Linked DNA regions of Homo sapiens: region 2 is linked to region 1. A link means that fine-mapping ties the variant in region 1 to the plasma level of a protein whose gene starts in the linked region. Region 1 holds a variant in brackets. A gene starts in the other region. All regions are shown on their forward strands. Region 1 overlaps LINC02356 (long intergenic non-protein coding RNA 2356). Region 2 holds the start of TYMP (thymidine phosphorylase).

The links. A credible set is the group of variants that fine-mapping cannot tell apart. PIP is the posterior inclusion probability: the model's chance that the variant is causal. The UK Biobank Pharma Proteomics Project read protein levels with antibody pairs (Olink). The fine-mapping took linkage between variants from a reference panel, not from the people measured, so its PIPs are less certain.
Region 2: it holds the start of TYMP, and the variant in region 1 is the best candidate, but not a certain one, in a credible set for the plasma level of the TYMP protein (UK Biobank, PIP 0.78).

Annotation. Positions count from the first base shown.
Region 1 is chr12:111,387,789-111,404,820 of GRCh38, forward strand. LINC02356 (long intergenic non-protein coding RNA 2356) reads left to right here. Exons shown (of 4, transcript NR_187522.1): 3 at 9,043-9,085; 4 at 15,350-15,522. It also overlaps a transcript of SH2B3 not described here. Among named protein-coding and RNA genes, the nearest start is that of SH2B3, 9.6 kb to the right of the region's middle. RefSeq lists an enhancer at 15,342-15,591. The variant G/A (reference allele first, on the strand shown) is at 8,196.
Region 2 is chr22:50,529,801-50,539,570 of GRCh38, forward strand. It overlaps TYMP (thymidine phosphorylase), which reads right to left and starts at 212. Exons shown (of 10, transcript NM_001953.5): 1 at 104-212. It overlaps CIMAP1B (ciliary microtubule associated protein 1B), which reads right to left and starts at 2,698. Exons shown (of 7, transcript NM_001014440.4): 1 at 2,677-2,698; 2 at 2,169-2,311; 3 at 1,770-1,973; 4 at 1,391-1,495; 5 at 1,137-1,258; 6 at 912-1,052; 7 at 626-760. The coding sequence starts at 2,277. The coding sequence ends at 680. RefSeq lists silencers at 1-49, 60-909, 920-1,149, 1,310-1,419, 1,770-1,929 and 3 more and enhancers at 1,132-1,637, 9,530-9,579, 9,610-9,770, 9,680-9,770.

The sequences.
Region 1 (17,032 bases):
CTGCCACCACTTCCCCATCCCAGGCCACCACTATCTCTCCCCAGGTCGGTTACTGCAGCCTCCCTTCCGGCCTCCCTTCTGCCACTCCCAACTCCCTCATCCCCAGGGTTCATTCTCCACTGAGCAGCCGAGGGATCCTCTTAGAACTTTCATGAAATCAAGTCATGGCACCCTCTTGCCCAAAGCCTTTCCATGGCTCCCCATGGCCTTGGGAGCAAGTCCAGACTCCATCCCATGGGTGACAAGGCCCTCCTTATCCTGGCTGCTGGCTACCCCTCAAGCCTCTTCACACATGGTTTACTCTCCTCACGCTTCGCTGCAGCTGCCTGGCCTCCCTCTCTTCCCAGAGTGCGCCAGGCTCCAGGCCCTTGCATGTGCTGGTCCCCTTCCCAGGAGGCTTCCTCCTTCACTCAGCCACCCCTCATCCTTTAAGTGTTCACTCAGCCATTGCCTCTTCCAGGAAGGTCTGTGACCCCAACCCTTCCCCTCCCGCTAAGTCAGAGGCCTTCGCTGCTTCCCATTAGCCATTCTTTCAACCAGTATTTACTGGGCACTGCTTTGTCCCAGGCACCAGGGATAGAAGTTAAAAAGACAGGCAATGGCCAGGCACAGTGGCTCACACCTGTAATCCCAGCACTTTGGGAGGCCAAAGCAGGCGGATCATTTGAGGTCAGAAGTTTGAGACCAGCCTGGCCAACATGGCGAAACCCCATCTCTACTAAAAATATAAAGGTAGCCGGGCATGGTGGTGCTTGCCTGTAATTCCGGGGTTCTCAGGAGGCTGAGGTGGAAGAATCACTTGAACCTAGGAGGCAGAGGTTGCAGTGAGCTGAGATCATGACACTCCACACCAGCCTGGGTGACAGAACAAGACTCTATCAAAAAAATTAAACAATTAATTAAATGGTTAGTTTTGCAGGGCATGGTGGTTCACACCTGTACACTGGGCTTTTTTTTTTTTTTTTTTTGGAGTCCCACTATTCAGAGGCTGAGGCAGGAGGATCACTTGAGCCTGGGAGGCCGAGGCTACAGTGAGCCATGATCCTGCCACCACCACACTCCAGCCTAGGTGACAGAGCAAGACTCTGTCTCTAAATAAATAAATAAATAAATAAAATGGTTAGTTTTGCTGGGCGCAGTGGCTCACACCTGTAGTCCCAGCCTCTTGGGAGGCTAAGGCAGAAGAATCACTTGAGCCCAGGAGTTCAAGACAATCCTGGGCAACATAGCAAGATTCCATCTCTATGTAAAAAAAAAAAAAAATAGTTTTATGTTATAGGAACTTCACCTCATTTAACTTATTATTTTTTTAAAGACAGACAAGACAAGTGCCCCTGCCCTTCCTGACCAGAGGGGAAAATAAGTAAATAACATTCGTACAGTCCATGAATTGAAGTTAAGAGCCCAGGAGAAAAATAAGCAGGGCAAGAGGATATGAATTGTTCATGAGGATGGGTTGCAGGGCTTGTCATTTTACTAGGAGGGGACCGAGGAAGGCCTCCTTGAGAAGGCAGCCTTTGAGCAAAGACCTGAAGGAAATAAGGGCACAAACCATGCAGATGGCCAGGGAACAGCGTTGTTGGCAGAGGGAACAGCACATGCAGAGGCCCGCAGGCAGGAGGCCATGTGGCTGCAGCAGAGAGGAGGGGAGAGGAGAGATGACATCATGGAGGCCTGTGGGCTTTTCTCAGGAGGTTGGGAAGATGTGGCAGGACCCACAAAGGAAATGAGAAGATACAGCCAGTGACATAGGAGAAAAACCAGGAGAAGCCAATTGCAGGTCACGTATCTGGGCTTGATAACTATGGATGTACCCTTGGCGGGCTTCTCCCCACATTGGAAGGCAGGTCCAGGAAGGCAGGGGGTTTGGTCTGCCTTGTTCACCGCTGTGTCTCAGCACCTGGCAGTGCCCAGGACATAGCAGGTGCTTGGTGACGAGGATATGAGTCAGTGGCTGACCTGGTGTCCCCTGGCCCCGCTGTTTGGCATCCAGATCTCAGTCTCTGGACTGATGGCAGTGATGCCCCTCTTCACCTAGCCACCAGCAGGGGCAGATGGTGGTCCAGGTGGGATCTGAGGCGGAGCTTCCTTCCACCATGGCCACCCCACCCAAGAAGTGGGCTGAGCCAGCCACCCACAAGAGGGAACCGAAATCATCCTCCACCACAAACACGCTGGCCTGGCTCCACACTGGGCAGGACATGGAGGAAGGGGGAGCGATAGTGAGGGCCAGAGTCCCTCCACTTCAAGGGTCCCCTTCCCCTGGTATATACATGGGAAAAAGGAGACACCAGCCAAGGGCTGGGTTGCTGTGTGTGAGTGAATTTTGCTGAAGTCCCAAAGACCTGGAAGGTCCTGCCGGCTCATCCCCTGCCTCAAGTGCAGGGGTTTTTGTTGTTGTTGTTGTTTTAATTTTTTTTTATTTTTTTATTTTTTTGAGACAGAGTCTCACTCTGTCACCAAGCTGAAGTGCCGTGGCATGATCTCAGCTCACTGCAACCTCTTCCTCCCGGGTTCAAGTGATTCTCATGCCTCAGCCTCCCGAGTAGCTGGGATTACAGGTGTGCACCACATAGCCTGACTAATTTTTTTTGTATTTTTAGTAGAGACAAGGTTTCGCCATATTGCCCAAGTTGGTCTCAAACTCCTGAGCTCAGGCAATCTGCCCACCTCGGCCTCCCAAAGTGCTGGGATTACAGGTGTGAGCCACCACACCTGGCAAGTGCAGGATTTATGAGTCCTGCTTTAAAAGGTGGCACATGAGACATGGTGGCTCTCACCTGTAATCCCAGCAGTTTGGGAGGCTGAGGCGGGAGGAATGCTTCAGGCCAGGAATTCAAGACTAGCCAGGGCAATATAGCAAGACTCCCTCTCTACAAAAAATAAAAATAAAAATTAGCTGGCCGTGGTGGCATTCACCTGTACTCCCAGTTACTTGGGGGACTGAGGCAGGAAGATCACTCAAGCCTGGAAGGTCGAGGCTGCGGTGAGTGATCACGCCACTGCATTCCAGGCTGGGCGACAGAGCAAGACCCTGCCTCAAACAAACAAACAAAAAAAGCTGGCATTGGCAACTTCTCCCTTTATCCTTTTGTCCCTCCTTTAAGGGAGCCTCTCATTTCCCCCCAGACCCCTGCCACAGACACCCAAATTCCTGGACATTTTCTCCCAAGGGGCAATTTCAATTTCTAAATTTCACCTGCTCAAAGCAACGAAGAGGTATTGCCTGGGGCCGGGGCTGTGTTTATTTGACATGGTGCCTCACTGTGAATCCTCAACCCAAAGCTCCGAGATGGTGAGTGAGGCACCAGTGTTCTCACAGGAAGAGGCAGAGCGGGTGCTAGCCTACTGGTCACCAAAGCTGGTGTTCCTTTTTTTTTTTTTTTTTTTAGACAGAATTTTGCTCTTGTTGCCTAGGCTGGAGTGCAATGGCGCGATCTTGGCAAGAAATTCTCCCGCCTCAGCCTCCCGAGTAGCTGGGACTACAGGCATGCGCCACCATGCCCACAAAGCTGGTATTCCTAACCACCTAGCACTCTCCACTTCAAATCCAAAAAATCCTATCCAAGTACTGCTTTAGCAAAACCCACAACCAACCAACTCCCGCCCAGAAACCCAGAATGGCTGCCTTCTGTAGATAGATTTCGTGGGATTTATTTTCCTTCTGGCTCTTCAGGGTCAGGAGCTGAAGGGAGGTGAGGCTGGCAGGCATGGTTCCTGAGTCGCATCCAGGATTGCAGAAGAGCAGAGGAGGTCTTTCATTTGCCGGTGAAGCCCCAGACTCATAAAGCAACTTGTGCTGGGCGTGGTGGTCCGCACCTGCAGTCCCATCTACTCGGGAGGCTGAGGCGGGAGGATCGCTTGAGGCCAGGAGTTCAAGGCTGTAGTGCGCTATGATCGTGCCTGTGAATAGCCACTGCGCTGCAGCCTGGGCAACACAGCGAGACTGTCTCTTAAAAAAAATTTTTTTTTTTTTGAGGCGGAGTCTCACTCTTTCGCCCAGGCTGGAGTGCAGTGGCGCGATCTCGGCTCACTGCAAACTCCGCCTCCCTGGTTCACGCCATTCTCCTGCCTGAGCCTCCTGAGTAGCCGGGACTACAGGCGCCCGCCACCACGCCTGGCTAATTTTTTGTATTTTTAGTAGAGACGGGGTTTCACCGTGTTAGCCAAGATGGTCTCGATCTCCTGACCTCGTGATCCACCCGCCTCGGGCCCCCAAAGTGCTGGGATTACAGGCGTGAGCCACCACGCCCAGCCAAAATTTTTAAAAATAGTAAAAAGCAACTTGTAACCATGCATTAGGCTGGAAATTAATGGGTTTAATATGCATGAGTGGGTTCTAATCCCCACTCTGCCATTTGCAAACTGTGTGTCCTTCAGCAAGTCACTTTACCTCTCTGTGCCTTGGCCTCCTCATCTGTAAAACAGGGGAAACAGACTGGGCGCGGTGACTCACGCCTGTAATCCCAGCACTTTGGGAGGCTGAAGCGGGTGGATCACCTGAGGTCAGGAGTTCAAGACCAGCCTGGCCAACATGGCAAAATCCTGTCTCTACTAAAAATACAAAAAATAGCTGGCGTGGTGGTGTGCCTGTAATCCCAGCTACTTGGGAGGCTGAGGCAGGAGAATGGCTTGAACCCAGGAGGCAGAGTTTGCAGCAAGCTGAGATTGTGCCACTGTACTCCAGCCTGGGCGACAGAGCAAGTCTCCAGCTCAGAAACATAAAATAAAATAAAAATAATAGCTAATGTTTACCGAGCACTTGAGGGTTTTGCTTCTTACCATGACACTGATAATTAGGAAAGACTTTACTATCTCTATTTTAAACATAAAGAAACCAAACAGAGAGGTGACGCGGCTTGCCTGAAGTCACACAGCGAGCAAGTAAACCCGAGCTTAGAATCTGAGTAGCTGTGCAACCTTGGGCAAGTCACTTCACCTCTGTGAGCCTCAGTTTCCTCATCTGGAAAATGGAGATGATAAGGGTTGTTAGAAGAATTCAGTGAGCTTCATGGCCCATGAACTTGTCACTCTGTATTTAAGGGTATTTAACTTGTCACTTTGTATTTAAGGATTCACTTTCCAACTGCCTGTCTACCATGAGAACAAACACCATGTCTGCTGTGTTCCCCACTGTATCCCCAGTGCCTGGAGAAGTCCTAGCACATAGTAGGGGCTCAACAAATCTCAAGTTGAGGGGCAGTGTATTCTCTTGACCTTATGGGGCCCTAACTCCTCTCAGCCTTCCTCTGCTGCCTGGTGCTGCAAACGTCCAACCCCAGGGCCATTCCAGTCAACCCAATAGATGCAAACAGGACCATCCCAGTCTCCTGTTTCAGGTATGAGGAGCCCACAAAGCACATTTGGGTGTTATGATTGCTAGGAGGACCCAGTGCTGTTCTCTGGCCATTGCCAAGTGGCTAAAAGCTGCACACAAACAGGCTTCAGCCAAAAAGAAATGACTGACTTACAGAGCTGAGAAGTCCAAGAGTGACTGCTTTCAGGTATGGCTGGATCTAGGTGCACAGACATTGTCATCAAGATGGTTTTTCTCTGTCTCTGGGCTTTGCTCTACTATGAGTGTGTTCACTCCCAGGCAAGACAGCCCTCAGAAATTCCAAGCTCATGTCCTCTGGAGTGCAGTGACACGATTTCGGCTCACTGCAACCTCTGTCTCCCAGGTTCAAGCGATTCTGCTGACTCAGCCTCCCGAGTAGCTGGGATTACAGGCGTGCCACCACGCCCAGCTAATTTTTGTACTTTTTAGTAGAAATGGGGTTTCACCATGTTGGCCAGGCTGGTCTCGAACTCCTGACCTCAAGTGATCCGCCTGCCTTGACCTCCCAAAGTGCTAAGATTACAGGCATTGAGCCGCCGTGCCCAGCCCAAATGAGGTATTTTCTTATCCGACTGTGCTGTTAAAGACTGGAATTGAGGCTCATTGGCCCTGCCCACCCTTGAACCAGTCACTGGGGCATGGGAGGGAGGGTTAGCCCCAGAGAACATCTTGAACTCCGACTGGATGGAAAATCAGGTGCTTCTACCAGCACAAGGGGAAGTCAGGCAGCCACAGCCCATGTCCACTTCGACTTCGGCCTCACGGTGAGTGGCTTCCAGCAGGGAAACGCAGGGTCAGCTGCGCTCCCCACCCTCCAGCCCCACCCTCCGCTTTCTACTTCTGCTTCTAACAGTGTTGCCAAATACTCCCCTCTCTCCTCTCCTCCTTTCTATGGCCCTGTGGCCCCAGTTGCCTCAGAGACATGAAGTGACTTCCCCCAAGGTCACACAGCAGGTCTATGTGGCAGAGCCCTGAGGCGCACCCAGGCAGCTGGCCCCAGTGTCCTGCTCTTGACCCAAGAATAAGCTCAAGCCCACCCCTGTCTGAGTTCTGAAAGGAAGTAACTCAGGTGCCTGAGGCTCTGAAGATAATCCCTTTCCATCTGGGTGACTGATGGTCTGGTCTGATAGGCCTGAGAACCCCACAGAGGGCAGAGGAAAGTGCAGCTCCTTGCACCTTGCACCCTGCTTGCTGGCTTGGGGCACTCTCCTGGCTCGGGGCCCTTCCGGCCATGACCTCAACTCCTGCCTCCCTCTCTGGCACCCTCTTTTCATATATGTGTGTGTATATATATATATATATATATATATATATGGGGAGAGAGAGAGAGAGAGAGAGAGAGAGAGAGATGGGGGTTTCATCATGTCGCCCAGGCTAGTCTCAAACTCGTGAGTTCAAGCGATCTGCCCGCCTTGGCCTCCCAAAGTGCTGGGACTACAGACGTGAGCCACCACACCCAGTGCCCTCTGACACCTTCTGCCCCTCTCTGAGCATCTTGACATCTTACACCCCAGAGAGGCCCTGCTTGCTGCCTCCTCCAGTGCAGAGGGCACAGGTGGACAAGCTCCAGGGGCGGGCACCCCCATGCCTTTCTGCAGCCTCAGGCCCTGCCCAAGTCCCCTTGGGCTGGCAAGGGGCTCAGGAGGCCTCAAGTTGGTGATCTAGAACCAGGAAGCCACCCTGGCTGATTTGCAGGCGAGAAGTGGCCCGTACATATGTCACCTCCTCTGTGGGAGCAGCCCCAGCCTCTGCCAGGTTCTGGGGGTGTGGGAGAAGAACTTCCCAGCCTCTGCCGCACATCTGCATCTTGAGGTCAAGATCACCTGGGCAACAGGATGGGAGATGGAGGATGGGGGTGGGGTGGGGGGATAGGGCTGAAGGAATAGAGAGGGCAGGGTGCATCCTAACACCTTTTTCCACATTAAAAAATTTAAGGTGAAAGTCACATAACAAAATGAATTAATTAATTTTAGTTAGTGAATTAACTAAATTTATTCATTTACTTAGAGACAGAATCTTGCTGTGTCACCCAGGCTGGAGTGCAGGGGCAGGATCACCGCTCACTGCAGCCTCAAACTCCTGGACTCAAGTGATCCTCCCACCACAGCGCCTCCTGAGTAGCTGAGACTACAGGCGCATTCTACCTTGCCCGAATATTATTATTATTATTATTATTATTATTATTATTTTATTTTGTAGAGATATGAGTCTCACTATGTTGCTTAGGCTGGTCTCTTAACTCCAGGGCTCAAGTAGTCCTCCCACCTTGGCCTCCCCAAATGCTGGAATTACAGGTTTGAGCTACCGCACCCGGCCTCATGAAGTAACTAAATTTAGTACATTCACAGTGTTGTGCCACCATCATTTATCTCAGTCTAGATCCAGAACATTTCATCACCCCTAAAGGAAACCCCATACTCATTAGAAGTTACTTCCTATTCCCGCTGCCCATAGCCCATGGCAACCACTGGTCTACTTTCTGTCTCTAGGGGTTTACCTATTCTATATACTTTACATAAGCAGAATCACACAATATTTGTCCGTTTATGACTGGCTTATTTCACTTAGCATGATGCTTCCAAGTTTCATCCACATTGTAGCATATATCAATGCTTCGGTCCTTTTTATGGCTGTGTAATATTCCATTGTATAGATAGCATTGTCTTGATTCATTCATCCCCTGGTGGGCACATGAGTTGTTTCTATCTTTTGCCTATTGTGAATGGCACTGCTATGAACATTCATGTACAAGTATCTGTCTGAGTGCCTGTTTTCAATTCTTTTGCCTCTGTACTTTAGCTAACATTTTTGTTTGTTTAGAGATGGGGGTCTCACTATGTTGCCCAGCTTGGCCTCC[G/A]ACTCCTGAGCTCAAGTGATCCTCCCACTTCAGCCTCCCAAAGTGCAGGGATTACAGGCATGAGCCATCTCACCTGGCTTTAGCTAACATTTTGATGCTTTTTTTTTTTTTTGAGATGGAGTCTCGCTGTGCTGCCCAAGCTGGAGTGCAATGGCATGATCTCAGCTCACTGCAACTTCCACCTCCCTGGTTTAAGCGATTCTCCTGCCTCAGCCTCCCAAGTAGCTGGGATTACAGGCATGCACCACTACGCCTGGTTAATTTTTGTATTTTTAGTAGAGACAGAGTTTTGCCATGTTGCCCAGGCTGGTCTCGAACTCCTGACCTCAGGTGATCCACCCACCTTGGCCTCCCAAAGTTCTGGGATTACAGGCGTGAGCCACTGCACCTGGCCTTGATGCTTCTTTTAATGTAGATTAAATGAGGCGGGTAGGATTAAGCTGTTCTTAGTAATCCACTCCTCATTGTAAAAGAAAGACCTGAGAACAGGTTTAGCTAGTAATAGTCAGCATTATTTGTTTATTTATTTATATATTTTGAGACAGTCTCACGCTATCACCCAGGCTGGAGTAGTGGCACTATCTCGGCTCACTACAACTTGTCCCTCCCAGGTTCAAGCAATTCTCCTGTCTCAGCCTTCCAAGTAGCTGGGATTACAGGCATGCACCACCGCGCCAGGCTAATTTTTGTATTTTTAGTAGAGACAGGGTTTCACCCTGTTGGCCAGGCTGCTCTCGAACTCCTGGTCTCAAGCAGTCCTCCCACCTCGGCCTCCCAAAGTGGTGGGATTACAGACGTGAGCCACCACGCCCCACTGGTGTCCTCATTCTTTGTTCCCATTTTACAGATGCGGAAACTGAAGCTCAGAGAGCCCAAGTCATTTGCCCAAGGTGACCCAGCACTGAAGGGAGAAGCTAGCCATTAAGCTGTCCCCAAACCCGTGTACTCAACGTTGATGGCTACTCGATGGTGGCTGAGAGGCATCCAACCTGGAGCCTGGGAAGCTTCCAGGAAGGCTTGGGGGGAATCCAAGAGGAAGGTTCTTTGCGGGAGAAAGAGTGAGGCAGGGGAGTTTAGGAGGCCGCTTCCCAGCCCTCGATCGCCCCACAGCCACCAGGGGGCGCCAGAGCCCCGCGCAAAGCGGCTGCCACCAAGTGGCTGCCACCGCGCGTTACCACCCTCAGGGCCTGATGCCTGGGACTGCGGCCAAGTCCCGGCCCCAGGAGCTCGCGTGCCCCACGTTGATCCCGGGTCACGGGTGGGGACGGCTGGGGTAACTGGGTTGTACGTCCTCTGCGGAGCTATTAGGGACTCTAATTACCGGGATTGGAAGTGAATAATTATCTACTGGGCCTCAGGCTACTGAGTCACTTCCCCCAGAAACCAGATTCCCCAGGCTAGCGGAAGAGGGGGCGGCTCGCAGGCTGAGGTTGGGGCGGGGGAAGGTGGAAGCGGGGGTCTGGGGTTGGGGTGCGCGGCCGCCGCTGTTTTTGGTCAAGATCAGAACTGGGGAGCCTGGGTGTAAATCGCTGCTGGGCCACTTACCAGCCACGTGAATTGGGGAAGTCACTTCACCTTTCGTGCCTCAGTTTCCTTTCTGTCAAATGGGGGAAAACAACATTCTCTCCTTACAGTTGTTGGGCAAAGTAAATTGTAATCTACCTAAACTAAGCCCTCAGAGTAGTCCCTGGCACATAATCCTCTAATAATTCATTAATCACTCAGAATTATTAATTAGGCCGGGCGAGGTGCCTCACGTTTATAATCCCAGCACTTTGGGAGGCCGAGGCGGGCGGATCACTTGAGGTCAGGAGTTTGAGACGAGCCTGGGCAACATGGGGAAACCCCATCTCTACTAAAAATACAAAAAATTAGCCAACCGTGGTGGCTCATGCCTGTAATCCCAGCTACTTGGGAGGCTGAGGCACGAGAATCGTTTGAACCCGGGAGGCAGAGGTTGCAGTGAGCCAAGATCGAGTCATTGCACTCCAGCCTTGGTGACAGAGCAAGACTCCCTCCCCCAACCCCCCCCCAAAAAAAAAGGACAAAAAAGAACATTAATTAATCATTAATCATTGGGCCGGGTGTGGTGGCTGATGCCTATAATCCCAGCACTTTGGGAGGCTGAGGCAGGCAGATCATGAGGTCAGGAGTTCGAGACCAGCCTGACCAACATAGAGAAACCCCGTCTCTACTAAAAATACAAAAATTAGCTGGGCGTAGTGGTGCATACCTGTAATCCCAGCTACTCAGGAGGCTGAGGCAGGAGAATCGCTTGAACCCAGGAGGTGGAGGTTGCAGTGAGCCGAGATCGAGACATTGCACTCCAGCCTGGGTGACAGAGTGAAACTCCATCTAAAAAAAAAAAATCATTAACCATTAATTCAGAATCATTAATTCTGTTATTATTACCATTTTTTATCACTTGGGCTCAGTAAGTGATTAAGAGGTAGGGCACTACAGTGAGGCCAGTCTTTAGTCCACACCAGCTGCTTCATTGCCAGTCGTGTGACATGGACATGTCACTTCACTGCCCTGTGCCTCAGTTCCTTCATCTGACAAATGGGAAAATGAATAGCAAACCGTTCATTTGGGGTGGAAGAGATAAGGCCTGTGATGTTCTCAGTGTGGCGCACGCTTCCATAAATGGAGTCCAGATTGTAAATACTGTTCATGCTTTTCTTAGGGAAGGACTTGTGGCAATTTTAGCTTCTAAGGCACTGGGAGGACAGAAAACAGAACTGAATCCAAGGGAAGGAAGCACAGGGAGAGATGACATCAGGCACTTGAGCTCAGCAGATCAGACCCTGAGCCCAGGAATCGGCCTTGGGAGTTCTGCCCACCCAGGCAAAAAGGGAAGAACCCAGTAATGTAATTATTTTCTGGCCTGGGGCAGATGTGTATTGACCAAGGGGGACCATTTCCTGAGCCCTCTTGGTCTCTGTTGGACCCTAATGGGTGGGAAAAGGGTTGGTTGGACCTCACCCCCCCAAGGTTTCTTGAGCTCTGTGTTAATTATTGATTGCTGGGTAACAAATTACTCCTGCATTTACTGGCTTAAAACAGCAAACCTTTATTATCTCATATGGTTTTAGGAATTCACATGCAATCTGACTTAGCTTGTAGTTCAGGGTCTCTCACTCCTGAGATGGTAGTCCGAAACATGGGCTGGTGGCACGCACATGCAGTTGCAGCTATTTGAGAGGCCGAGACAGGAGGATTGTTTGAGCCTAGAAGTTCAAGGCTATAGATCGTGCTATATGATCGTGCCTGTGAATAGCCATTGCATTCCAGTCTGGGCAATGAAACAAGACCCCGTCTTTTAAATAAACAAACAAACAAAAATGGGTTAGGACTGTTCTCATCTGGGGTCCAACTGGGGCTGGATGATTCACTTCCAGGATAGTTGGAAGTGATGGTTTCAGTCCTGGCTGTTGCCAGGAGGTCTCTGTTCCTTGCTGGCTGGTGGCAGGAAGCCTCAGTTCCTCTTCACACGGACCTCCATAAAGCTACTTGGGTGTCCTTAAGACACGGTGGCTGGCTTCTCCCAGAGTGGATGGCTCAAGAGAGTACAAGGAGAAGCCTAAATGCTTCTTATGACTCAGTCTCAGAAGTCACACAGCGTCACTTCCACTTTAGTCTCTGTTAGAAATGACTCATTAAGGCCAGGTGTGGGGGCTCACGCCTGTAATCCCAGCACTTTGGGAGGCCGAGGCGAGCGGATCACGAGGTCAGGAGATCAAGACCATCCTGGCTAACACAGTGAAACCCTGTTTCTACTAAAAATACAAAAAATTAGCTGGGCGTGGTGGCTCGTGCCTATAGTCCCAGCTACTCAGGAGGCGGAGGTTGCAGTGAGCCGAGATCGCACCACTGCAGTCCAGCCTGGGTGACAGAGCAAGACTCTGTCAGAAAGAAAGAAAGAAGGAAAGGAAGGAAGGAAGAAAGGAAGGAAGGAAGGAAGGAAGGAAGGAAGGAAGGAAGGAAAGGAAGGAAGGAAGGAGTCATTAAGTCCAGCCCACACTCAAGGGCAGGGGAATCAGGTTCCACCTTTTCAAGGGAGGTATGTCAAAGAAGTGTGGACTGTTTTTAAGCCACGAGGAGCACCTGTTATGTGCCAAGAACTGTGCTCACAAGAGTGAGCAAGACACACAAATGCCTGGCCGAGTGGAGCTGACCTGCTCCTGGGGGTGGGGGAAAGAGACTGCCAATAAACAGATGAATCAATGATTCTGGTATCAGTCAGGGGGCCACAAGGGTGAGGAAGAAAAAACATGCAGAGGCAAGTCAGGCGCGGTGGCTCCTGTAATCCTAGCACTTTGGGAGGCCAAAGTGGGAGCATTGCTTGAGCCCAGGAGTTTGAGACCAGCCTGGACAACATAGAGAGACCCTGTTTCTACAAAAAATAGAAACAATTAGCCAGGCATGGTGGGGTGCACCTGTAGTCCCAGCTCCTTGAGAGGCTGAGGCAGCAGGATCGCTTGAGCCCAGGAGTTCAAGGTTGCAGTGAGCCATGATTGTACAACTGCACTCCAGCCTGGGTGATGGAGTGAGACCCTGCCTCTAAGAAAAAGAAAGAAAAAAAGCAGGAGCAGAAGAGAGATGGAGATGGTCAGCAATGGGGGCAGGGCTGGTTTAGGTTTGGTGGGCAGTCAGACATCTCCTGGGAGTGAAGAAAGCAAGGGTAGACAGCTGGGCGCGGTGGCTCACGACTATAATCCCAGCACTTTGGGAGGCCAAGGCGGGAAGATTGCCTGAGGTCAGCTATTCAAGGCCAGCCTGGCCAACATGGTGAAACCCCATCTCTACTAAAACTACAAAAAATTAGCTGGGCATGGTGGCTTTCACTTGTAATTCCAGCTTCTCAGGAGGCTGAGGCAGAAGAATCACTTGAACCCAGGAGGTGGCAGAGGCTGCAGTGAGCCAGGATTGAGCCATTGCACTCCAGCCTGGGCAACAGAGTGAGACTCCGTCTCAAACAAAACAAAACAAAAACATCTGGTGGAAGAGCATTCTGGGCACAGGGAACAGCCAGTGCTAAGGCCTTGAAGTGGGAGCATGAAGGTGAGTTTGAGGAACAGCCAGGAGGAGCCCAGTGTGCTGCAGTGTCCTTTGATAATGCTCAGCACTCTGTGCATTCACTGAAGGCCACTAGGGACAAAGTGTCCTACACAATGTCATTTCCCTTCACCCAACTACTATCATGCCCATTTGACAAGCCAGAGATACTGAGGCTCAGAAAGTGGGAGCCTGTTGCTGGTGGCAAGAGGGGACCTTTGGAGGTTGCACAGCAGTGCCGTGATGGAAACTCGGGCATGGGAAACACCAGCAGTAGCCATTGCCCAGCTGGGGGCCAGGCCAGGCCAGGTCCCCGGGCCTCCTCCTCGCCTGTGGCCCAGGCCTGCAGAAGCACATTTTACAAATGCAGACAGCAAGGCCTCCACTCTGGCTGGGTGACCCTGGGCAAGATCTTTGCTCTCAAACCTCAGTGTCTGCATCTGTAAAAGGGGTGTGAAGCTCTGTTGTTTACAGGACTGGTCTTTGTGGCCACTCCTCTTCACAACCCTCGAGGGACACGGGACTCTCACACCCAATCATAGATTATAATCACATTCTTTTTTTTTTTGAGACGAAGTCTCACTCTTGTCACCAGGCTGGAGTGCAATGGTGCAATCTCGGCTCACTGCAACCTCCGCCTCCCAGGTTCAAGCAATTATCCCTGCGTCAGCCTCCCAAGTAGCTGGGATTACAGGCACCCACCAGCACGCCCAGTTAATTTTTGTATTTTTAGTAGAGACAGGGTTTCACCATGTTGACAAGGCTGGTCTCAAACTCCCGACCTCAGGTGATCCATCTGCTGCAGCCTCCCAAAGTGCTGGGATTACCGGCATGAGCCACCGAGCCTGCACTATATTCAACATTCTTTATCAGTCGTTGCTATGTGGAGGTACCTCCCCCACTCCTAAGCCCTCAATGTGAGTTTTCTCATCAAATTCCCCCTCAACCCAATGGGGTCAGTCCTGTCACTGTCCCCATTTTCCAGATGAGGAAACTGAGGCCCAGAGAATCTATGTGACTGCACAGCTAGGAGATACAGAACAGAGAACTCTTTTTTTTTTTTTTGGAGACGGAGTCTCGCTCTGTTGTTGCCAGGCTGGAGCACAGTCGCGTGATCTCAGCTCACTGCAACCTCCCCTTCCTGGGTTTAAGCGATTCTCCTGCCTCAGCCTCCCGAGTAGCTGGGACTACTGGCACCCGCCACCACACCCGGCTAATTTTTGTATTTTTAGTAGAGATGGGGTTTCACCATATTGGCCTGGCTGGTCTTGAACTCCTGACTTTGTGATCCACCGCCTCAGTCTCCCAAAGTGCTGGGATTACAGGCCTAAGCCACCGCGCCTGGCCCACTTTTTGAATTTTTATGAGTATATAGTAGGTGTATATATTTATGGAGTATGTGAGGTATTTTGATACAGGCATGCAATGTGTAATTATCACATCAGGGTAAATGAGGTATCCATCACCTCAAGCACTTATCATGTATTTGTGTTTGTACTAGTTAACTTTTGTTGTTATTTAAATTATTATTAATACGAATTGCTAATATGAATATTAATAGCATTGATCATTGTTAATTTATTGCTGTTGACTCGTGTTGTAATCGTTATCTTTTTAATTTTTTTTTTTTTTTTTTGAGACGGATTTTCACTCTTGTTGCCCAGGCTGGAGTGCAATGGTACGATCTCGGCTCACCGCAACCTCCACCTCCCGGGTTCAAACAATTCTCCTGCCTCAGCCTCCTGAGTAGCTGGGATTACAGGCATGCGGCACCACACCTGGCTAATTTTGTATTTTTAGTAGAGACGGGGTTTCTCCATGTTGGTCAGGCTGGTCTCGAACTCCCGACCTTGGGTGATCCGCCTGCCTCGGCCTCCCAAAGTGCTGGGATTACAGGCATGAGCCACCGCGCGTGGCCTGTAATTGTTATTAATCCTGTGAGTCTCCGGCTTTCTGGAACTTGGCCAGCAGGAGGTGTTGGTGTTTTTCACAGCAAGAAGGAAGGGCGGTTGGACCTGCTCCCCTAAGACGGCCTGGCTTGTTTCCGGGAGCTACGGATCAGTCATGGGAATTTGAATAACCCTTTCTCTCCTTAGGTCCCAGTGACCTGCCGAGTGGGAAGAGCCGTGGCTGGCCGGCCTCCCAGTGGCGACGACGACCTCGCTGTGTTCGTGGCAGCGGCACTCTCAAATCTGGGCACGGTGATGGGAAGGTTATTTGTTGGAATCCCTTTGCCTTTCCAAGGGAAAATAAACACAAAAAGTGAGAAGTCTTGGGGTCTCAGCGAGCGCCAAAACAAAAAACTGGACTCTGGCGGGGATGTGGGCAAGAAGCGACTAAGCGAGGAAGGAAACCAGTTTGGGCCTCCGAGAAATCTGGCAGGCGAGAAGGTTTGAACCGTGATTAAAAAGGGGAAGAACCACAAGTCCCAATTTAAGTCAGCAGAGCTGCTGTCTGGGCAGTGAGAGGGAAAGTGCTTGTGGCTGGCAGATTTCAGCAGCCATTTGGCATTGGCTGGGTACCGGGCTGCTCTGTGGGTGCTGCCTGGCAGCTGCATGGCTACAGACAAGTAACTGTTCTCTCTTGGCCGCAGTGTCCCCAGGTATAAGAAAGTGATCAAATAATATGGGATGATCCATTCAGACTTTTTTTTTTTTTTTTTTTAGAGACAGAGCCTACCTCTGTCTCCCAGGCTCGAGTGCAGTGATGCAATCTTGGCTCACTGCAGTGTCCACCTCCCAGGTTCAAGCGATTCTTCTGCCTCTGCCTCCCCAGTAGCTGGGACTACAGGTGCGTGCAACCATGCCTGGCTAATTTTTGTATTTTTAGTAGAGACAGGGTTTCACCCTGTTGACCAGGCTGGTCTCAAACTCCTGACCTCAGGTGATCCGCTGGCCTCAGCCTCCCAAAGTGCTGAGATTGCAGGTGTGAGCCACTACACCCGGCCTCGTTTAGACTTCATTGACATTCCCCCACCCCACCCCTCTTCCCACATCCTCAGATGCCGTGTGAACAGCTTGAATCCCACACTCCACAGGTCCTTCTCCTCACAACCCTCCATGGCACCCTACTGCCTTCAAAATAATTCCCAAAGTCCCCACCAAGACCTTCAAGACACCATGTGATGGGCCCACCTTTGAAACATCATCTCTTACCAGTATAGGTGTCACCACTGCCTTTATGACTTTATTCCAAAGCACCACATGTATTCCCACCTCAGCACCTTTGCACATGCTGTTCCTTTGGCCTGGAATGCTCTTCCCTCAGACGTTATAGCACCTGGATCCTTCTTGTCATGGAGGGTTCTAAGCTCACATGTTAGTTCCGCAGAGGTGTCCTTCCTGAGCCCTGGATCTAAGACATCCCCTTCCAGCTCTCCATCCCGTAACTGTTTTGTCATTGTCATAGCTGATCCCACTTGCTTATTCGTGCCTTATGTCCCCCCACTAGAATATCAGCTCCACGCAGGCAGGGATATCTGTGTTGTTCACTGCTGTGTTCCCAGCGCCTAGAACAGTGCCTGGAAATGTGCGGAAAGCAGATTTTTGTGGCCTTTTTCTTCAAGGTCATTGGACACCAGGAATCCTGTAGCAGACCGCTCCCTTCCCCCATCTACTCGGAGTCTGGAAATCCCCACCTTCTGGGGAACCCCTTCCTGTAGTTCTAAGGTCAGGACTGGGGCCGATTTGTTTAACACAGAGAGCTTCCTGGAGCCAAGCCTCGAGCTAACTGCTTTAATGCATTAACTCACTTAATTCTCACTGCCAGGAGAGTGGGTA
Region 2 (9,770 bases), not on the chromosome of region 1:
TCCCGTGTCTCTCCGGTGTCCGCCCCTCGGTCCCGTGTCTGTGTCGCCCTCGTCCGTGTCTGCCTCCCGCTTCCCCGCCTCGCGACTTGAGCCCCGCCCGTACCTGCTTAGGGCGCTGCCCTCGCCCGCTTGCTCCGGATCCCAGCCCAGGTACCCGGCCTCGCCCGCGGGTCGGGACCGTAGGGTTCAGGGTTCGCGCACAGCGGTCCACTGCCGGCGGCGGGGCGGCGGCGCCCCAGGACGGCAGGCGGGTGGGGCCGCCTGGAGGGCGGAGCTCGGCAGTCGCCGCCCCCGGGAAGCCTTGCACGCCGCGCCCCGGCCAATCCCCCGGTGCCCCCGGACACGCGGAACTTCCGGGCCGTCGGGGCCCGGGGCCGTCGGCGGGGGTGATCCCTGGCCGGTCCCGCCCGGCGTGGGTCTCGGGCGTCTGTGGCTCCCGAGAGTCCCCCTCCCGCCCTCGGTGGGGTCTCGACGTTCGGACGCGGCGCAGCGCTGGGGTCCCGGCCTCGCCCGACGCTCGGGCCCCGCCCCGCTGGGTTCGGAGTTGGGACACGGCCCCAGCCGTGGCTCCACCCCAGGCCTTGCGCCAGGACGCGCAGAGAGAGAGAGAGAGAGGCGGACACGATGCGGACTCGCAGACTTTAAGCAAACACGTGTGGGGCCGCTCCCGCCTGGCGGGTCAGTTGTCCGCGTCGGTCACCAGCGGGGCCAGGTAGTCCGAGTGCCGGATCCCGAAACTCCAGCCGCGGGGCTTCCGGTGCTGCGGGCCCGGAGACACCGCTGACCTCGCGGGGCCGGCATCCTCTCCGCGCCGGGACCCCTGGACCCCCGGGGACTCTGATCCCATCACTCCGACCTCAGGCCCTCCCCACTCTCCTGACTCTGACCCTTGACCCTGGGCTCCAGGCCACCTGATCCACGTTGTAGGCCGCGGGCCCTGGCTTCCGAGTGTTGTCTTGGGGGAGCGAAGTCCGCGCCAGAATCGTGAACTGGGGGGCCCGGGACTTGTAGACCCCTGGACTCACGACCTGATAGGCGCAGGGGCCCGGGGTCTGCGAGAGGGCAGAGGGTGCTGGCTGCCGCCTCCACTGCCGCGGACCAGGGACCCCCTGCGTCCGCCCCGGCCCCTCCCCCACCTTGCTGAGGTCCTCGAAGAAACTGCCAGCCGCTCTGCGGCCGTAGATGGAGCAAGTTGGGGCGGAGACTTTGCCGATGACGCGCGGACCCAAGAGCGAGGGCACCGTATAGGCCGCGGGACCTGGGGAGGAGGCAGGGCTCGGGGGTAGTGGGTCTCCGCGGACAGGCGCAGGGTGGTCCCAGCTCCCGGAGGGCGGTCCCCGGTCTCGAGTGGGAAGGCCCACAGTTCTGGGATGGGCCGTTCTGACCTCACCTGGGCTCTGCTGTTCCGCCTGGACACCCCAGTTTCGGGGAGCAATGGTGTGCCGAGGCGCACTGGGGTACGTCGCGTTCCCCGCTCGCTCCGGGAAGTACCTGCCTGCGGGGCGGATCAAGGGTGTGGGGGGCTAGAACTGCGTGGGAGCCTGGTGGGTACCCGAGATGGGGTCCTGGGACTAGTGGGGAGTCTGAGCCACGATTTATCAAAGCCCCGTGGGGTTCGGGGTTTGGGATTTGAGATCCGGATATGGGGGTACCGAATATGCGGTGTTAGGGTATCCGAGGGGGACTCGGGGTTCAGGTCGGGGGTTCCCAGGTGGGCCTCCCTGGAGGCAGTTCGGCGTTGGGGTGGCCAGGGGCCCGGGGGTCCTGACCAGGTCCCGGAGTGAGGAAGGGCGCTGAGCGGCGTGGGCGGCCGTAGATGGAGTAGGCGGGGGCGCCGTCGGTGCCGCGCACGGTCATGCGAGCGGGCACCAGGTGGCCTGGCCCGGGGCCGCACGTCGTCTGCTGCGTGGGGAAGCGCGCGCCGAAGGTGAAGGCGGGGGCGCGCGGCCGCGACGGGTCATGCAGGGCGTAGCCTGGGAGCATCCGAGTTAGCGTCTGGCCGGGCCCAGCCCCAAGCCCCATCTGCAACACGGACCCTCCCCCGGCACAGACCCCCTCTCCCCTCTAGCAGGCACGGTTCAGCCCCGAGCGCAGGCCTCCCTGGTCTCTTCCCCTTCCCTCCCCCAGGCGCCGTCCCACCCCTCAATCCCGGGGCCTGCCCCTTCTACCGGTGTTGGGCGGCAGCTTGTATTTGGGCCCGGGGCCTCCGTAGTGCGCCGCGATGGGGCCGCGGGGCCGGTGTGGCCGCCAAAGGCCCACCCAGGCGTCCGAGCCCATAGCGCGGGTGGGGGGCGCTTACGGCTCGCAGCACCTGCGGACAGAAGGCGGTGGCCGCGGCCCCTGCACCGCAAATTCTTGGGGAGCGCACTTTCCCACTACCCTGGGATCAGCGCGGGGCGGGGCGGGGCCTGGACCGTATCCCTGGCGCCAGCAAAACAAACGCGAGCTTCCTTCCCGGCTGTGTGGAGCTTGGGGCCGGGAGCGGATCCAGGGCCATCACCCGGACTCCAGGCGCATTAGGCAGGGACGTGAACTCGCGGGGGCCAAGTCTAGACCCAGACTTGGTGAAGGGAATCACCTGGGGGTGGGGTGGGGGCAGGAGATTTTCGTGCTGTTGGGAAAGGGTGCCCCGGGAAGGGCCTGCGTGGGGGACCCGGTGCCCCGAGGTGCACTGACCTGTTGTGGTAGCTCCTAGCGTGGGAAAACAAAGCGACGTGGCTGGACATCCCCGCTCCGCCCCGCCCACCTCCCAGACCCCATTGTGGCCCTTTCCCGCTTCCTGGCAACCGCACTGACTGCCTGCCCCCCCAACCTGGGTCCGCCTCCCCCTTCCCCACCACCCAGTGCCGCCGCTGGGCCTCTGTGTGGATTCTGTGGCACGGGTGGGATAGTAGCCTGGGCCACCCAGAACGCTGGCCTCACCCTTACCCAAGTTTCAGTATACCCATTCTGGAATAGGACAAATCTGCAGACAAAAGCAAGGATGGGAATAAAGGAACTGAATAATGCAAAGCACACACTCCATTTAATTATGTGTAGAGAGAGGACTTATCTATTTAAGTCCATGAAATATTCGCAAAAAAAATCATGTATTGGGCCACAAAATAATCACACAAATTGAAAAAAAGATGTGACACATGATTTGATTACAATCAAATACAATTCTAGGCAAACAAAATGTAAAAAAAAGAAGAAGAAAACTCAGCCTGGGCAATACAGTGAGACCCATCTCGACAAAAAACTTTAAAAATTAGCTGGGTGTGATGATGTACATCTGTATTCCCAGCTATGGGGTCGGTGGCTGAGTCGGCAGGATCTGTTGAGTCTGGGAGTTGGATCCTGCAGTGAGCAGTGATCCCACCACTAGACTCCGGCCTGGGTGACAGAGTGAGACCTTGTCTTAAAAAAAGAAAAAAAAAGGGAGAGAGAGAACAGGAAGCAGGAGCAAACAAATATTTTGAAATTGACAAATCTTTAAAAAAAAACCCTGGATCAAAACTTGTCAGAAATAATCTGGTTACAAACTGTAGCAGGAAGAGCCGCAGACAAAACTCCTCAGACACCAGGTTAAAGAAGGAAGGGATTTATTCGGCCGGGGGCATCGGCAAGACTCCTGTCTCAAGAGCCGAGCTCCCTGAGTGAGCAATTCCTGTCCCTTTTAAGGGCTCACAACTCTAAGGGGGTCTGCGTGAGAGGTCATGATCGATTGAGCAAGCAGGGGGTACGTGACTGGGGTCTGCGTGCACCGGGTAATCAGAACGGAACAGAACAGGACAGGGATTTTCACAGTGCTTTTCCATGCAATGTCTGGAATCTACAGATAACATAACCGGTTAGGTCAGGGGTCCCTCTTTAACTACCAGGCCCAGGGCGCGGCACTGGGCTGTCTGCCTGTGGATTTTATTTCTGTCTTTTAGGTTTTACTTTTTCTTTCTTTGGAGGCAGAAATTGGGCATAAGACATATATATGAGGGGTGGTCTCCTTCCTTAAAACTACATATCAAACACTACAAAGGTAGATTCCCTTCCTACTGAACTCCTACAGGAGGCAGCTAAAGCTGTGTTCTTGTGGGCGGAGGATTACCCAGGTGCCGAGGCAAGAGACTGAAGGCACAAACTGTTTCAGTATAATAAAGAAAATAGTTACAGTAAGAATAGTTATCATACAAATTAGATATAGAGATGACCATGGACATTATCAATCATTAGTGTAGACATTAGTCATTAACTTTTAATATTACTCTTTGTTGCATCATTAATATAACCTAGGAATCACCGGCGGGTATAGGGTCAGGTGCTGAAGGGACATTGTGAGAAGTGACCTAGAAGGCAAGAGGTGAGCCGTCTGTCACGCCCATATAAGGGCCGTTTGAGGGCTCCTTGGTCAAGCGGTAACGCCAGTGTCTGGGAAGGCACCCGTTACTTAGCAGACTGCGAAAGGCAGTCTCCTTTCTTTGAAGGAGTCAGGGAACACTCTGCTCCACCAGCTTCTTGTGGGAGGCTGGATATTTTCCAGGCCTGCCCGCAGTCATCCGGAGGCCTAACCCCCTCCCTGTGGTGCTTCACTGGTCACGCTCCTTGTCCACTTTCATGCTCCTCCCATACTCCTGGTTCCTCTTTGAAGTTCACAGTAGATAGCGGTAGAAGAAATAGTTAAAGTCTTAAAGTATTTGATCTTTCTTAGAAATGCATAGAAGAAAACGCTGACGTTTGCTGCCTTCCCTCTCTGCTTCAGCTACCTAAAAGGGAAGGGGCCCCTGTCCTGTGATCACGTGACATGCTTCACCTTGTCAATCACTCAGAAGATTCACCCTCCTTACCCTGTCCCCTTGTCTTGTATGCAATAAATATCAGCCGTTTGGGGCCACTACCGGTCTCCTCCTCTTGATGGTAGTGGTCCCCCGGGCCCAGCTGTTTTCTCTTTATCTCTTTGTCTTGTGTCTTTATTTATTATAATCTCTCATCTCCGCACACGGGGAGAACACCCACTAAGCCCCGTACGGCTGGACCCTACATGTTCTGAGGAAAATTTATAGTCATTTTAAGATGACTTCATTATGGCTGGGTGCGGTGGCTCACGCCTGTAATCCCAGCACTTTGGGAGGCCGAGGCGGGTGGATCACGAGGTCAGGAGATCGAGACTATCCTGGCTAACATGGTGGAACCCCGTCTCTACTAAAAATACAAAAAAAAATTAGCCAGTCATAGTGGCGGGCGCCTGTAGTCTCAGCTACTCGGGAGGCTGAGGCAGGAGAATGGCGTGAACCCAGGAGGCGGAGCTTGCAGTGAGCGGAGATTGCACCACTGCACTCCAGCCTGGGCGACAGAGCAAGACTCCATCTCAAAAAAAAAAAAAAAAAGACTTCATTATTATTATTTTAGACAGAGTCTCACTCTGTCAACCAGGCTGGGGTGCAGTGGAGCATCTCAGCTCGCTGCAACCTCTGCCTCCCAGGCTCAAACAATCTTCCCTTGTCAGCCTCCCAAGTAGCTGGGACCACAGACATGCACCACCACACTCGGCTACTTGTTTTGTATTTTTGGGAGAGGTGGGGTTTCACCATGTTGCCCAGGCCGGCCTTGAACACCTGGGCTCGAAAGATCCACCGGCCTTGGCTTCCCAAAGTGCTGGGATTACAGAAGTAAGCCACCCAGCCTCGTGACTACATTATTAATGAAGAAACGATTCAAAAAGCTTAGTATATATCTTACAAATGGAAAAAAAATAAGTAACATAAAGGAATGAAACAGGAACTAACACAAAGTAGTAGATAAAATATAATAACTATATATGTATATTTTTGAGACAGAGTCTCGCTCTGTCGCCAGGCTGGAGTGCAGTGGCACAATCTCGGCTCACTGCAACCTCCACCTCCCGGATTCAAGCAATTCTTCTGCCTTATCCTCCCGAATAGCTGGGATTACAGGCGCCCGCCACCATGCCCAGCTAATTTTTGTATTTTTAGTAGAGATGGGGTTTCACCATGTTGGCCAGGATGGTCTCGATCTCTTGACCTTGTGATCTGCCCGCCTCGGCCTCCCAAAGTGCTGGGATTATAGGCGTGAGCCACCGCGTCCAGCCACTCAGAGAGTTTTGTCATGGTTCTTTTCATAGGCATGTGTGCATGAAGGCCCCCACCCCTTCTTAACCTCTTATTTTGTTTGGGTTCGACACAAGTGACTCCATCTTGATATTGGCAATTTTTACGTTTCCTCTAAAAATACAAAAATTAGCTGGGCATGGTGGCAAGTGCCTGTAATCCCAGCTACTTGGGAGGCTGAGGCAGGAGAATCACTTGATCCCGGGAGGCGGAGTTTGCAGTAAGCTGAGACCGTGCCATTGCACTCCAGCCTGGGTGATAGTGAGACTCAGTCCCCAAAAAAAAAAAAAAAAAATTCTCTGAAGACATCACTGATCAATTATCCTGTGGTTAGGTTTCGATTATCCCTTCCTGTCCAGGTTGACTTGGTGCCATGTTGGGAGAATGGCCAGCAATTTTAAGTCAGTGTCAAAACCATTTGAACCACATTTGAGCAGCTGGAAGGAAATTTGGAAGGAGTAGCTATTGGGTTAAGTCGGCCTTTCATTTGATCAGTCTCACAGGTGTTCCCTATCATGTCAAAGTGCTGCGCCAGCATTACTTGTTAGCAGTTGTACTTTTGCAGAGGTTGGGCAGGTGCAGGGTTTTAAAAGAATGACACAGAGTGAAGTAATATGATGAACTCAGTTTGCAGAATGATTTTATTTTTGTATTTTCTTCTATCTATCTATCTATCTATACTTTAATAGAGACACTCAGCTATTTTTGTTTTTGTTGTAGAGAAGAGGTCTTACTTTGTTGCCCAGGCTGGTATCAAACTGACTTCAAACAATCCTCCTGCATTGGCCTCCCAAAGTTCAGGGATTATAGGCATGAGCCACTGTGCTTGTCCCTATATTTCTTAAATATAGTATAAAAATAGTATACACTGTATGCTCTTAGATTACTTGATTTAAGTGCTTTTTTTCTTTATGCCAATTAAATAGAGTTCTTTGTAAATTAAAATCACATATAGACATAAAGACACAAAAACATAGACAACACAAAGATCTTGTGGCTTTTCACTTGAAAATTTTAGTTATAAAACAGTAGGCCAGGCACGGTGGCTCATGCCTGTAATCCCAGCACTTTGGGAGGCCGAGGTGGGCAGATCACTTGAGGTCAGGAGTTCGAGACCAACCTGACCAACATGGAGAAACCCTGTCTTTGCTAAAAATACAAAAATTAGCCAGATGTGGTGGTGCGTGCCTGTCATCCCAGCTACTCGGGAGGCTGAAGCAGGAGAATCACTTAAATCCGGGAGGCGGAGGTTTCAGTGAGCCGAGATTGCACCATTTCACTTCAGCCTGGGCAACAAGAGCAAAACTCTGTCTCGAAACAAAAACAAAAGCAAAAACAAAAACAGTAAAACATAAAAATATAAATTCACGGGTGTGTGAAAGGACAGTTGGATTTAAATTATGTTTTTGATAAAACAGAACAGGTTAAGGTTACCTGTTCAGATGGCTAACGCTTTACGATTTTCATTACCCTACCGGTAATCCTCTGAACAAGATGGGAAGACGAGACTGGGCGCTGTGGCTCATGCCTGTAATCGCGGCACTTTGGGAGGCCGAGGCAGGTAGATCACTTGCGGTCAGGAGTTGGAAACCAGCCTGGCCAACATAGTGAAAACCCATCTCTACTAAAAATACAAAATTAACCGGACTTGGTGTCAGGCACCTGTAATCCTAGCTACTTAGGGAGGCTGAGGCAGGAGAATCGCTTGAACCTGGGAGGTGGAGGTTGCAGTGAGCCAAGACTGCACCACTGCACTCCAGCCTGGGGGACAGAGCGAGACTCTGTCACAAACAAACAAACAGCTCCTCAAATGAATATAAATATTTAATTCCAGTAAGATTTCCAATGTTAAAAATAGGAAAACACAAATTTAAAGTTCATATGCAAAAATGTGTTCAATTGTCAAAAAAATTCTAAAACAGGAAAAGAATAAAAGGGTTCTTAGGTATTAACCGCATGCGACAGTTAATTTGATGCACCAGGTTGGCTGGGCCACGCACCCCTGGCAGCTCTGTGCATTCCCGGCCCCTTCCTTGCTCCTGAAGCCCAGCCATCGCGGCATCTTTCTGCATTTGCTGCTTCTGAATCCCTTTGTGTCCTCTTTTCTTGACTTCCGCTGTTAACGTCATCTTACTAGGTAACGATTCGCTATGTTAATGTTTTTCCTGTTCACATTCCTGGTGTGGCTGTTCCCTTCTGTTTGGAACTAAGTCGTGATAGAGATTTTCGGAGGGGAAGATGAGAGAGGTTCGGTGAGTGTATCAGGCAGGGGTAGAAATGGATTTATTATGGGGAATATTATAGAATCGCTGGATGAGTTGGTGGTATAATAGCTGAGAGGTGGCCTTTGGGACTACCGAGCTTAAGAGGAAACTTGGGTAGCTGTGATTCTGAGATCAGGAACCTGCCGGGAATCCTGATGCTGCACCCCTGCTGCCCAGGCCTCCCTCAGCGACGGCTGAGTGTCCACAGCCCTGTCTGCCAGCAGTCAGCGCAGGGCGGAGGCCTCCGAGTCATTTCTGCCTTTCACATCTTACACAACTGCACTGAATCCAACAGCCTCGCCCGGAACTGTGGCTGCAAGGGGATCTGTAAAACACAGTATTGCCGCATTTGTATTTTAGGTTCTAAAATACAGGAAAATAAACAAAAGGAGGTGAGAATGGAAGCTGAACACAATGGACCACATCCAGCACAGTGGAAAATCAAGAGTCCTGATGTGAGCACAGCAGGCTTGAGATGTCGTCTGCCACCCAGTGATGTTCATGGCAGACGTAGCGGAGAGGTCCAGGTCGGAGATGCTGAACTGAGAGGCGTGCACAAGCCGTGGGAATGGATGGGGCCGCTTAGTGCAGGGGTCACCAAGTCCAGCCACCTCCTGTTTCTGTAAATAAAATTTTATTGGGGCCAGGCGCGGTGGCTCCCGCCTGTAATCCCAGCACTTTGGGAGGCCGAGGCGGGCGGATCATGAGGTCAGGAGATCGAGACCATCCTGGCTAACACTGTGAAACCCCATCCCTACTAAAAATACAAAAAATTAGCTGGGCGTGGTGGTGGGCACCTGTAGTCCCAGCTACTCGGGAGGCTGAGGCAGGAGAATGACGTGAACCCGGGAGGCGGAGCTTGCAGTGAGCCGAGATCCCACCACTGCACTCCAGCCTGGGCAACAGAGCCAGACTCCATCTCAAAAAAGAAATAAATAAAAATAAAAATAAAAAATAAAATGTTATAGGAACACAGCCACATCCTTTTATTTTTTAAGGTTGGTTTTGTGCAGACTTGAGTAGTTGCAAGAGACTGTGTGACCTGCAGAGGCAAAAACAGCCGCAATCCAGCTCTTCGCACAAAAACTTTGCTGCCCCTGACTGAGGGTGTGCACGTGGGTAAAGAGCCCCAGGGCCCTGCAGTACTCCCGGGCTGGAGACGTGGCAGAAACAAGCACTCTGATATGTGGATCATAAACAAGTGACAGCCTCCGACGCTCAGCACTTAGGCGTCTCAGCCAACTTTCATGAGTTAGGTTGTGGGATGTTTGATAAGTGTAGCTTCTCAAGTTTCTGTCATCCTCACCAGGGACCCTTAAGCTGGTGGACTCGTATTTGACATCTGCGGTGAGGTCCTGTTGTATTCCAGGAAGACTTAATTTTCCAGACTATAATAGATTACTGT